2 linked regions of the Homo sapiens genome follow. The protein of the gene in region 2 interacts with the protein of the main gene of each other region in a biochemical or structural test. Each region holds a gene or a part of one and is shown on either strand. Other genes may lie near its edges.

Evidence for each region. The genes of interacting proteins can lie anywhere in the genome.
Region 1: the proteins of OTUD5 (region 2) and TRIM33 form a complex in vitro, tested with the Homo sapiens proteins (one study listed by BioGRID).

The regions. Positions count from the first base shown.
Region 1 is NC_000001.11:114,392,258-114,396,206, forward strand, and holds the end of TRIM33 (E3 ubiquitin-protein ligase TRIM33), read right to left. Parts: 3' UTR 533-3,949; downstream 1-532. UniProt on the Homo sapiens protein: Acts as an E3 ubiquitin-protein ligase. Promotes SMAD4 ubiquitination, nuclear exclusion and degradation via the ubiquitin proteasome pathway. According to PubMed:16751102, does not promote a decrease in the level of endogenous SMAD4.
Region 2 is NC_000023.11:48,940,599-48,947,633, forward strand, and holds part of OTUD5 (OTU domain-containing protein 5), read right to left. Parts: intron 3,686-7,035; coding exon 3,592-3,685; intron 1-3,591. UniProt on the Homo sapiens protein: Deubiquitinating enzyme that functions as a negative regulator of the innate immune system. Has peptidase activity towards 'Lys-48'- and 'Lys-63'-linked polyubiquitin chains. Can also cleave 'Lys-11'-linked ubiquitin chains (in vitro).

The sequences.
Region 1 (3,949 bases), on a different chromosome or scaffold from region 2:
CCCCACCTTGCTTAAAATTCTTCAAGGACTCCTTGTTGGCCTCAGCGTAATTCCCAAACCCTTTAATATAACTTACAAGACTCTCTGCTTGAAGAGGACTCTGCTCAATTTTTGAGTGTAGTATTTTACCACTCCAACTTACACTGTTTCAGATTAACTTTCAGTTAATTAACTTTTCAGTTCCTGGAATACATACATGTTCTCTCTCACTCAGTCTTCTACATGTTGTATTCTCTTTTCACTCTCTCTTTTCCTTGTCCACTGTCCTTTTATGAGTGAAAGAAATTGCTTTCCTGGCAACAAAGTTTGGGTTAGATCCTTTCCTACGCATTACAATTATATTCTGTTAATCCCTATCATAACATTGATTACTCTAACACAGAGTCTAAAGTCTGTGAAGGCAACGACTATATCTTCTTGTTCACTACTGTATCTTTGGTGCCTGGCACACAGTGTAAATTTTTAAAATGATTTAAAACTATGATTAAGTTTCAACTCACAGAAGAAGAAAAAAAGAAATTCATTTGAAAACTTTTTCAATTTTCTAATTTAATAGAAATAACCAAAACAATGTGGCTTTCAAACAAGGGTTTAAAACTAATCTAATACAACTTCTACAACACATTCCAGAGCATTATAACAAGAATTATTTACAGGCAGCTAATGTATTAAATAACCATGAAAAGAAAAAACTTGCTTTTATTACACACCAGCAAAAACACAGGAACGAAACAATTAGAAACTGCAACCTTGTTTTAAAAAATTAAATATGATTATTTAGAGAATACGATACCACAGAAACAGCACTTTTTAAGAATCATATTGAAGGGCAGTTAACTATGTGCAAAAATAATAGTACTAGTAGTAATAATAATAATGAGGGGAGGAGACCAATTGAAATACTGGAAGCAAGGAACTAGTAAGGCTGTGAATTTAACCCTTTCGTGTGTAGGTATGTCTACATAAAAAATTAACAGGCTTTCAAATTGCACAAATCTTTTTTTATAGGCTTATGTATATGTTTCACTGTGTTTTAAAATGTAGTAGATGCCTACATTTTTCAGAACAAGGAGCAGACATGCATTCCATCCTTAAGATTGAAATTTAGGCCACACTTGAAAGGGAATATTGCAGTGGCACTTACAAAATCATTTTGGTGCCTTCCCACACATAAATTTGGTGAATTTAAAAGAGGAGCATTTTTAATTTTAAAGATCACTTTCTAGAAAAGGGCTAAACTTAACTTTGTACACTTTGTAGTTTGATATGACAAATATATCCAAATTAACTTATTTTTGAAGATAGTTTTGTTTCTTCGATACAATAAAAAATATATAAAGGACCACATAGGCAAACACAAGGAACTAAGATGAAAGAAATGCTATACATGCATTTTGACCAAGTAAAAGAAACCATTATATTCAAGAGTACGTGTTGAATCTGAAATGTCTATGTAAACTGTGGCATATAAATTTTTTTCCTTAAAAAAGTACCTTCAATTTTTTTACTCAAACACTTACTTTTAAAAAAATATGCAACTTTCCCCAATTTTTAAAATAAAATGCCACAATATAGTGTCATTACTTCCAGCATACATTTAAATTTCTTAATTTTTAAAAGATAGACTGGGTGATATGCATACAAACTTTCCTATAAAATCACCATCCAGGAGAGGATTCTGACATGCTATTAGGCAACAGACTCAAAGCAGTGTTATTGCTTTATCAAGGAGGAGATTAACTGTGAGGGAAAAAAAATTAAATATCCAGGTCCGGTACATGATCAAACTGTATTACACCTTGAAAATCTTGAGTCACCTTCAGCAGATCATTAACATAGATGGTACAGAAATTAAGAATTCATGGTATGAATTAAGAATCTGTTTTAACTAAGGGAGTTGGGTGCGTGGATTTTTTATAAAACTACTCACTGATCCGATGCTGAGTATGCAAATAAGCAGTGCTGATTTTGACAAGAAATGAGATTTTTATATTTCACATGTTGTACATGAATGGGGGTGGATATGGGACGTAAAAGCCAAGGGAGACGGGGCCACAGCATCTACTCCCATTTTGGATAGTAAGAGACCATTTAATAACATACAGTAGGCCACAATCCAAGGGCATAGTTGGAAGACCTGAATCTATTATCTTATTAACACTAATCACTAATAATTACATGGCAGGATACCTGCTGAGGTAATTGATAAATCTACAATTTGCACACTTATAAACCTTTTACTTCTATTTAAAAGCATTATTTATTTCAATTAACTAAAAATTCCAAAACTTATCACAAAAAATGAGACAACTGACTTAGCATTACCTAAAATTCCCTTATGTTAAGATACAGAAGTCAGAAAGTACCAACTTGTTGATCCAAAAATAATAATTTCAATAGTGGATCCAATGCCTTATCATTTCTCTGTAGTAATGGTTTGATGTTTCCATATAGAGCACGACCTACAATCTAACCATACTTTAGAACTTTCACATGCTTTGCCTCATAAAGCAATTCCTTCACTCAGTGAATTGGCTGAGCCAAGTGCTGAAAACACAAATTTAGGTCAGCGGAACAGACTGAGCAACACTTTGTTCTTAGTTTTCTGATGGAAGAAGTAAATTGAAGTACAGCAAAAACTTTAAAAGCTTTTAAGAAAACATTATTATGTGGACTTTTCTCCAAATCTTCTAAAATACTGCCATTTAAAAAACAAATACAAATGTGAGAGAGTATAAAAACAAACTGCCTTCAGGGACTGACAGATACAATTTTGTCTTTTTAAAACATAAACTAATAGGAAAACATATATCTAAATATCAATTTAAGTTTTTATACTTTTTAACCATAGGTATATTAGAGCTGAAAAAATCAGCTTAGAAACACAACGATCAGTGTGCAAGAAAAAAGCTTTAATAAAAAATCTAAAGTGAATACCTTAATTTAATGGTGGTATGTTGATAGCTATTAATAGTAATTCCTCAGCAGTATACATTATCTTAACAGAAGTGGAGGCTATTAAATGTTGACAAAAAAGTGGCTTTTAAATTGCTTTAACCAATCTTAAAACCAAAAAAACCTAAAAACTCTATCTAACATGTAATTTTAAGGAAACACAATTATTTTTTAAGGCCCCAAATACTGAAAAATATTTACTTAAAATGTTTCTCCCCTCAGTTGGCAGAATCTATTTATGACTCATTATCTACAATTTTTTTAAAAGGATCCATTTGAAGAGCAATACAAAATATTAGAACTCAAAGGCCTGACAAAATGAAGTTATACTGCTGCTATTCCTCACTTTCCAAAAATGTGCCCTTAGATATATGTCTACTTACAAACTGAAATCATGGATTTTGTGAAAAAAGAGGGAAATTGGCATAGGCATAAGTATTTTTAAATAATTTTCTCCCTCTTATTAAAAAACATTTTTAGGAATTTAAAATTTGAGTAAAATGTTTCAACAGTTTGGTATATTTTCAACGGCTTAAATTATTTTTTAAAAATTGAAAGAAAAGTGAAAAGGAAGCCAGGAATAAAGTAAATCAATAGTAATAATAAAATCAATACTCTTTAAATACACAACCAGAAAGCCTGAATCATATTCCTGTTTACCCCCACCCCTTGTTAAGAAAAGAAAAACAACCCAAAGGAATTTGTATAATAATTTCTTTAGAGCACTTTATTTGATTCAATATGCATTAAAAAATATTGACCTCTTAGACAATTACGTGAAATAATTTTCTGAGTAGTCTACTCTCTGAACTGCTTAAATGAATTTTTAAAAAGGCAAATAAATGATTTGCCACAAATCTGCTGACTTCTGAAAAATATCTAACAGCAAATTCTTCTATTTTGGTCTCTGAATATTCTAATGTGTCCATACAAAAGTAGGACTAAAATCTTTAATCAAACAAAAGAGAAGCCTGTAACAGTGTAGAACACACAT
Region 2 (7,035 bases):
GCCTTCACTCTGCCCACAGAAGCTAGCACCAGGACCCTGGTCAGGGTTAGAGGTTTCTGCTGAGTCAAAGCCACATGGAGGGAGGGAGCAAGGGAGAGATGCAGAGTCATGTTTCCAGGAGGAGGTTATCTGAGCATAACAGGGACAGGGTGGGCCACAGGATACCTCTGAGGCTCAGGTTCCCACCTCCACTCCACCCAAGCCTTCAATGATGCTCATGAATCCCCAATAAGAGGAGGTGGGAGAGAACTGAGCGCAAGCAATGGATATTGCTTAACTCAGGGGAACCAATGGCAGGCAGGCAGCTACCTGGGGAGTAGGCAATTCTCAGAAGTCTCTAAAGCAAATGGTAGGACCCTATAGGAAGATAATCCAGGGGAACAGAAGGCAGAAAGCCACCTGCCTCAAGACTCCCAACAACAGAGGGCCACGTGCTCCTACTTGGAGGAGGTAAGGTCCAGAGAAGTCAAGGAACACAGCCAAGGTCATCCAGCCAGTTGACAACCAAGCTAAGAAGCTAAGGATCCTAGGATCATAAAAAGAATGTGTCCTGGCCGGATGCGGTGGCTCATGCCTATAATCCCAACACTTTGGGAGGCCAAAGCGGGTGGATCACAAAGTCAGGAGTTTGAGACCAGCCTGACCAACATGGTGAAACCCCATCTCTGCTAAAAACACAAAAATTAACCAGGTGTGGTGGTGCACGCCTGTAATCCTAGCTACTCAGGAGGCTGAGGCAGAAGAATCACTTGAACCCGGGAGGCAGAGGTTGCAGTGAGCCGAGATCACGCCACTGCACATTCCAGCCTGGGCGACAGAGGGAGACTCCATCTCAAAAAAAAAAAAAAAAAAAAAAAAAAAAAAAAAAAAAAGAATGCGTGTCCTTTGGACACCTCTGGGTTCCCAGGCCAGCTCTGGCTAATGGCCCTGAGCATGTCATTTCCCTTTCTATGCTTCAATCTTTTCACCTGTCTCATGGGATAATGATCCAAGTTTTGCAGTGAGCCTGAAGCACCCAGCTGAATGCCTAGCACACAGCAGGGGTCAAGGAAACAGTGCCCTCTATGTTTGCAGCCCCCGCCCAACTCCAACTCTCTGCTCCACGTTCCTTCCACTATTCAACACATGGCAGGAAGTCAGCCTGTAGGGCTTCACACTACAGTCTAAGCTGACTGCCATCTGTCCCCATCCAGGCGAGGCTGGAAACGGGGGCAGCAAAAAGCCCAGGGACAAAGTCCCCTTCCCAGGCACATGTATTATGCACTCTGCACCAAGGAAACCTCCAGATAAGGTCTAGAGACCAAGGGCCATGTACTTCGGGGGAGAGGCCAGAGGACTTCTGAGGTTTTACAGAGAAAAGCCAAAGGCAGCCCAGTCAGGGGAAATGTGTAGCCATAGTGCCGATAAGGAAAGGCCTTCAACCTGCCCTGGTCAGCTCTTCCTGTAAGTAGAGGCCCCTTACTGAAGGCCCCAGTGGGAGGAAGGGTCGGGAGTATTTGGGGAGAACAGCTAGATACATATAGACACACACACACACACAAATACTGCTCTTGATACGAGTTACTACAACAAGCCAGGTCCTCACTAGCTAGCCCCAAGGGTCGGGGGTATTTGGGGAGAACAGCTAGCTAGATACACACACACATACACACACACACACACACACACACACACACACACACAGAGAACAGCTAGCTAGATACACACACACACACACACACACACACACACACACACACGGCTCTTGATATGAGTTACTACACAAGCCAGGTCCTCACTAGCCAGTCCCAAGGCTTACCCTCAATGACTGCCCAAGACTCAGATGCCCGCTGCATTCTCTAATCCTAACTCCACCAGAAGCCCTGCTTACCCCACATCTAGCCTGAGGTCTCAACACAGGGCCTAGCACCTAACAGGCCCCCACCTATTCTTTCTTTGCCTTTCTTTTGTCCAAGATGCCCCGAAACCCAGCTCTTCCTCTGGGAAACATCCCAGGGAAAACACAAACTTGAGCCAGAGGGGTAGGAGGGATAAGTTTTTTCCCAGTCCAATAGAGCCCATTGCCTGAGCCTCTTCTGCTTGGCAGAATAGAGAGGAGACCATTCACTCCACCCTTTCAACAAACACATGTGACTCTGAGGCACCAGTGAAAATGGCATCTGGGTTTTACAAATGCTACTGTTCCATGAGGGTCTACTATATGTGTCAGGCACTAAAGGGATTTACCAAAGCAACTTCATTAAATCGTTACAGCATTAGGGTCTTTTAGCCCCATTTTACAGATGAGGAAACAGCCTCAGGAAAGAAGAGCTGCTTGCCTAAGGTCATACCAAGAATCAGTTGTGCAGCCAGGGATGGAGCCTAAAACACCCCAGCCCACCAGTAGACATGGGGGGTACCCACAGACGGAGAGAATAGCAGACCAAGAAGGAACTCAAAGAGGCATTGAGAATCAACACCATTTCACAGACGGGAAGACCAAGGCCAAGTGTCACAGCAGTTATGAGTCAGGGCCAGAACTAGAAGGTAGGTCTTCTGACTCCCAGCTCAAAGCTCCTATCAGAGGGCACTTTTCCTTGGTAGATATCAGAGAACCACAGGGAGGATCAGGTCACATTCCCAGCTTCCCCTTCACCCTAGCACAGGACCTCACAACTACTTGTTGGGTCACAGATTCAGAGCCAAAATGGCCTCAAAGATCTAACTCAGACTGGATAACAGATGGTATTAAGGCATTATTAATTCTGTTAGGTGCAGTAATGGCATTTTGATTATGTTAAAAAGAAGAGAGTAAGTCTGTATCTGTCAGAGAAACATACAGAAATATTTATGAATGAAATGATCCAATGTCGGGGTTTTGCTTTAAAAATACTCTTCTTTCAGGGGAGTGAGAAAGAGTGGGCGGGATAGTGATGAAACAAGGCTGGCCACGTATTGACTATTTTGAAGCTGGATGATGGGTACATGAGGGTTCATCATTCTCTCTACTTTTATATAAGTTGAAAAAAAATTCTATGATATAAGAAATTTGTAAAGATCTAGTCTGATAGCCCCCATACACACAGATTGAGGAACAGAGACCCGCAACACACCAGAGATGGGATCTGGGTATAAACCTAGGGGTCATACAGCCCAGGGTGGCAGCAGTATGCTATGGTTAAGAGCATGGGCCTCAGACTAATCTAACCCAGACACTGAATCCCAACTCTACCACTTATTATTTCACTCCAGACAAGTCACCCACCATCTCTGAGCCACTTTTCTCATCTGACAAATGGAAGCAACAGTAGTCCCTACACTCACCTAGCTTAGAGGGGAATCAAAGAGGTTTCCTGTAGCACCTGACAATGTGTCCCAAAGGATATTATTTTCTTTATCATTCTTCTTGCTGTTATTATGCATATTAATCTTGCACCACTACAATGTCTCAAGACCCACGGCTAGAGGTCAGATACCAACTTGAGGCTGGAGCCTAGAGTCCCTAAAAGATTAGCTAGCTCTGCCTCAACCCTGTCTCAGGGGCTATTCCTGATAACTGGGACACAGCTTAGGGGCAGCCCTAGGCCCTTAAGGACTAAGGCAGAGACTCACCTACAGCCCGGAAGAGACAGGCGCCATCCTCCTTCATCTGCTTGATGATGAAGCCCTTCTTGTCTCGTAGGGCCTTTTCAAACCAATGCTCCTGCTGGAGGGAAGAGGTGGGGGTCAGCAACAGGGAAAACCTGTACTCCCTCCCCAGGGCCCCGACCTCAAGCTCCCGAGAGGCCTAGATCATTGACAGAGAGGACGCTGGCCAAGGTAAAGTTCTCAGCCCTGTTTGACCACTCCATGCATGTGAAGTAGGAGACTCTTTTAGGGAATTAGTTGCTGAGTGAAACTAAGACTTACTTCCAAAAGGGTCCTAGGTGCCCTGAGAACAGTGGCCCCATATGCCTTATGGCTTCTGTTGACCTTGCAGGGCCTGGCCCAGGGAGCCACACTGCCTCAGGCAGCCAGAGACTCAGACCCAGCAAGTGCCTGGGTGGAGAATGTGGCTCTACCTCAAGGAGTTTCATCTAGGAAAGGTGGTGAAGAGGGGGTAACTAGCAAGAGCCTAGATCCTGAACCTGACAAAGGGCTAGAGGATTCCAAGATATGCTGTAGGCCGGGCATGGTGGCTCACACCTGTAATCCCAGCACTTTGGGAGGCCAAGGTGGGTGGATCACCTGAGGTCGGGAGTTCGAGACCAGCCTGACCAACATGGAGAAACCCCGTCTCTAATAAAAATACAAAAGTAGTCAGGCGTGGTGGTGCATGCCTGTAATCCCAGCTACATGGGAGGCTTAGGCAGGAGAATCGTTCGAACCCAGGAGGTAAGAGGTTGCGGTGAGCTAAGATCACCCCATTGCGTTCCAGCCTGGGCAACAAGAGCGAAACTCTGTCTCAAAAAAAAAAAAAAGAGATATACTCTAGAAGGCAAAAGTGTGCAAACAATGTTCTCATCTGTGACTGAACACATTTAACAGATATCTACACATATATACATATGTATGTATACAAACACACGTACACAAAATTGGGAAGGCTAGACAGCAAAATATCCCTAAGTCCTGGTGTTATCAGCGATTTTATTGCACTTTCCCTTTTATAAAGTTACACTAAACCCAAAAAGCTTTGAAAATCAAGTCTTTTTTTTTTTTTTTTTTTTTTGAGATGCAGTCTCACTCTTTTGCCCAGGCCGGAGTGCAGTGGCACTATCTCGGCTCACTGCAAGCTCTGCCTCCCGGGTTCATGCCATTCTCCTGCCTCAGCCTCCCGACTAGCTGGGACTACAGGCGCCTGCCACCATGCCTGGCTAATTTTTTGTATTTTTAGTAGAGACGGGGTTTCACCATGTTAGCCAGGATGGTCTCGATCTCCTGATCTCGTGATCCACCCACCTCGGCCTCCCAAAGTGCTGGGATTACAGACATGAGCCACTGTGCCCGGCCCAAAAGTCTTTATCTAATTCATTTGGCATCATAACCTGACCAGAACTGACAAGAATCTATTTATCCCACTTGGGGTAAATATTCAAATATTTCAATGCAGAAAACATTCAGGTGTTTGATTATGAGGTGCTGCCTCAGACCCTGCTGGAGGTGTTATGTAACACAAAGTATACACACCAGGTAAGTTTTATAAATTGTTTTTTTCCTAAATTCCAAAGCACACCTGGCACCACGAAGGTTCAACTTAAATGAACCTGTACAAATGCCTATTTTTTAATTAAAAAAATAATGACCATATAACCTCTTAAAACATAATTTTCATTTCAAAACAAAACCAACCAGAAGCAGCAGACCTTTCCTGGGCCCCTCACGCCCTCTGCTGGCTACCAGAAGCAGCCAGCCTGACCTAGCAACAAGGCTGCAAACTACAGGATCCCAAGCCTGCTCCTTGTGGACACAGGCCTGCCCAGGGATTTATAGGATCTGGGGTATTAGAGACCAGACATAGGGGCCCACCTATCCGTAAGGCCATTTTTCCCCAGCTCAAGCAAGGGGTGGAACCCATCCCCTAAGAAAGCCAGAGGAGAAGCATCTCTGGCAAAGTTGTAAGCACAAGGTTTGGAACGCAAGAGCTCTGGGTTCCAACCCCAGCTTTGCCACACACTTGCTGTCTGTTATCACTCTCAGTTTCCTATAGAATGGGGGATATGTTGATCTACCGGACAGAGCTGTGAGGAGTTTCAGGACCTAAAGAAGCTTTGTAAATAACGTACCATATACTAGGGGAAGTTGTCGCCAATCACAGAAGGGGAGGAGATCAGCACAGAGATTATGCACAACTGAGAGACCCTCAGAAAGTCCCAGGTGAGTAGCGGGACAGGAGGGGAGGAAGAGGTGACAAGGGAATACCCAGCCAGTCCCATCATCAGGGCCCACACCCCAGGAAAATGTGGCTGGATTTCTAGAGATGACAAAGACACCTGGAAGCCCTTAATGAGCTTCCATGCGCAGCACAAGGACTCCTGTTTGTGCACAACATTCCAGTGGTCCAGGTGTCCCTCCTTGCCCCCAAGCCTGTGGATTAACACACTCCAGCCAGTTATGCCCAAGTCCATCCTGGCCACACATGGTCAGCCATCTCCCAGAGTCATGGGCCTGCCCCAGCCAGGGGTCTCCAGCAGGGATGGTGCAACCACAACTATAGTCCCAAACCTGACACAAGAATAGGTTCTTAAAAAGAAGGGAACACAGCGACTTCCTGGCTTTGGAGAGAGGGGAAAAAGAGAGGAGAAAAGGAGATCAAACAGGAGAGGGGCTCCTACTTATCCATTCAAGAAAGACTTACCAGGTAGCTACTAAGTAAGATACTGGGCTGGGCAGTGAGGACAGTGAAATGAATCAGACTTAGTCTCCACTCTTGATAAGCTCACAAACTACTTAGCAGAGGGGTAGGGAAACAGGTAACCACCACAAGGTATGAACAAGGCTGTGAAAAATGTAAATGCCAGGTGTTGTGAAACAGAAAGAGGCTGGGCGAAGTGGCTCTCGCCTGTAATCCCAGCACTTTGGGAGGCCGAGGCAGGTGGATCACTTGAGATCAAGAGTTCAAGACCAGCCTGGCCAACATGGTAAAACCTTGTTTCTACTAAAAAATACAAAAAAAAATTAACTGGGCATGGTGGTGCATGCCTGTAATCCCAGCTAAATCAGGAGGCTGAGGGAGAAGAATCGCTTGAACCTGGGAGACAGAAGTTGCAGTGAGCCGGGATCATACCACTGTATTCTAGCCTAGGCGACAGAGTGAGACTCTGTCTCAAAAAAAAGAAGAAAAGAAAAGAAACACAGTCATTGGGCCAGGCACGGTGGTTCACACCTGTAATCCCAGAACTTTGGGAGGCTGAGGTGGGCGGATCACCTGAGGTCGGGAGTTTGAGACCAGCCTGACCAACATGGAGAAACCCCGTCTCTACTGAAAAATACAAAATTAGCCAGGTGTGGTGGTGCATGCCTGTAATCCCAGCTACTCGGGAGGCTGAGGCAGGAGAATCGCTTGAACCCGGGAGG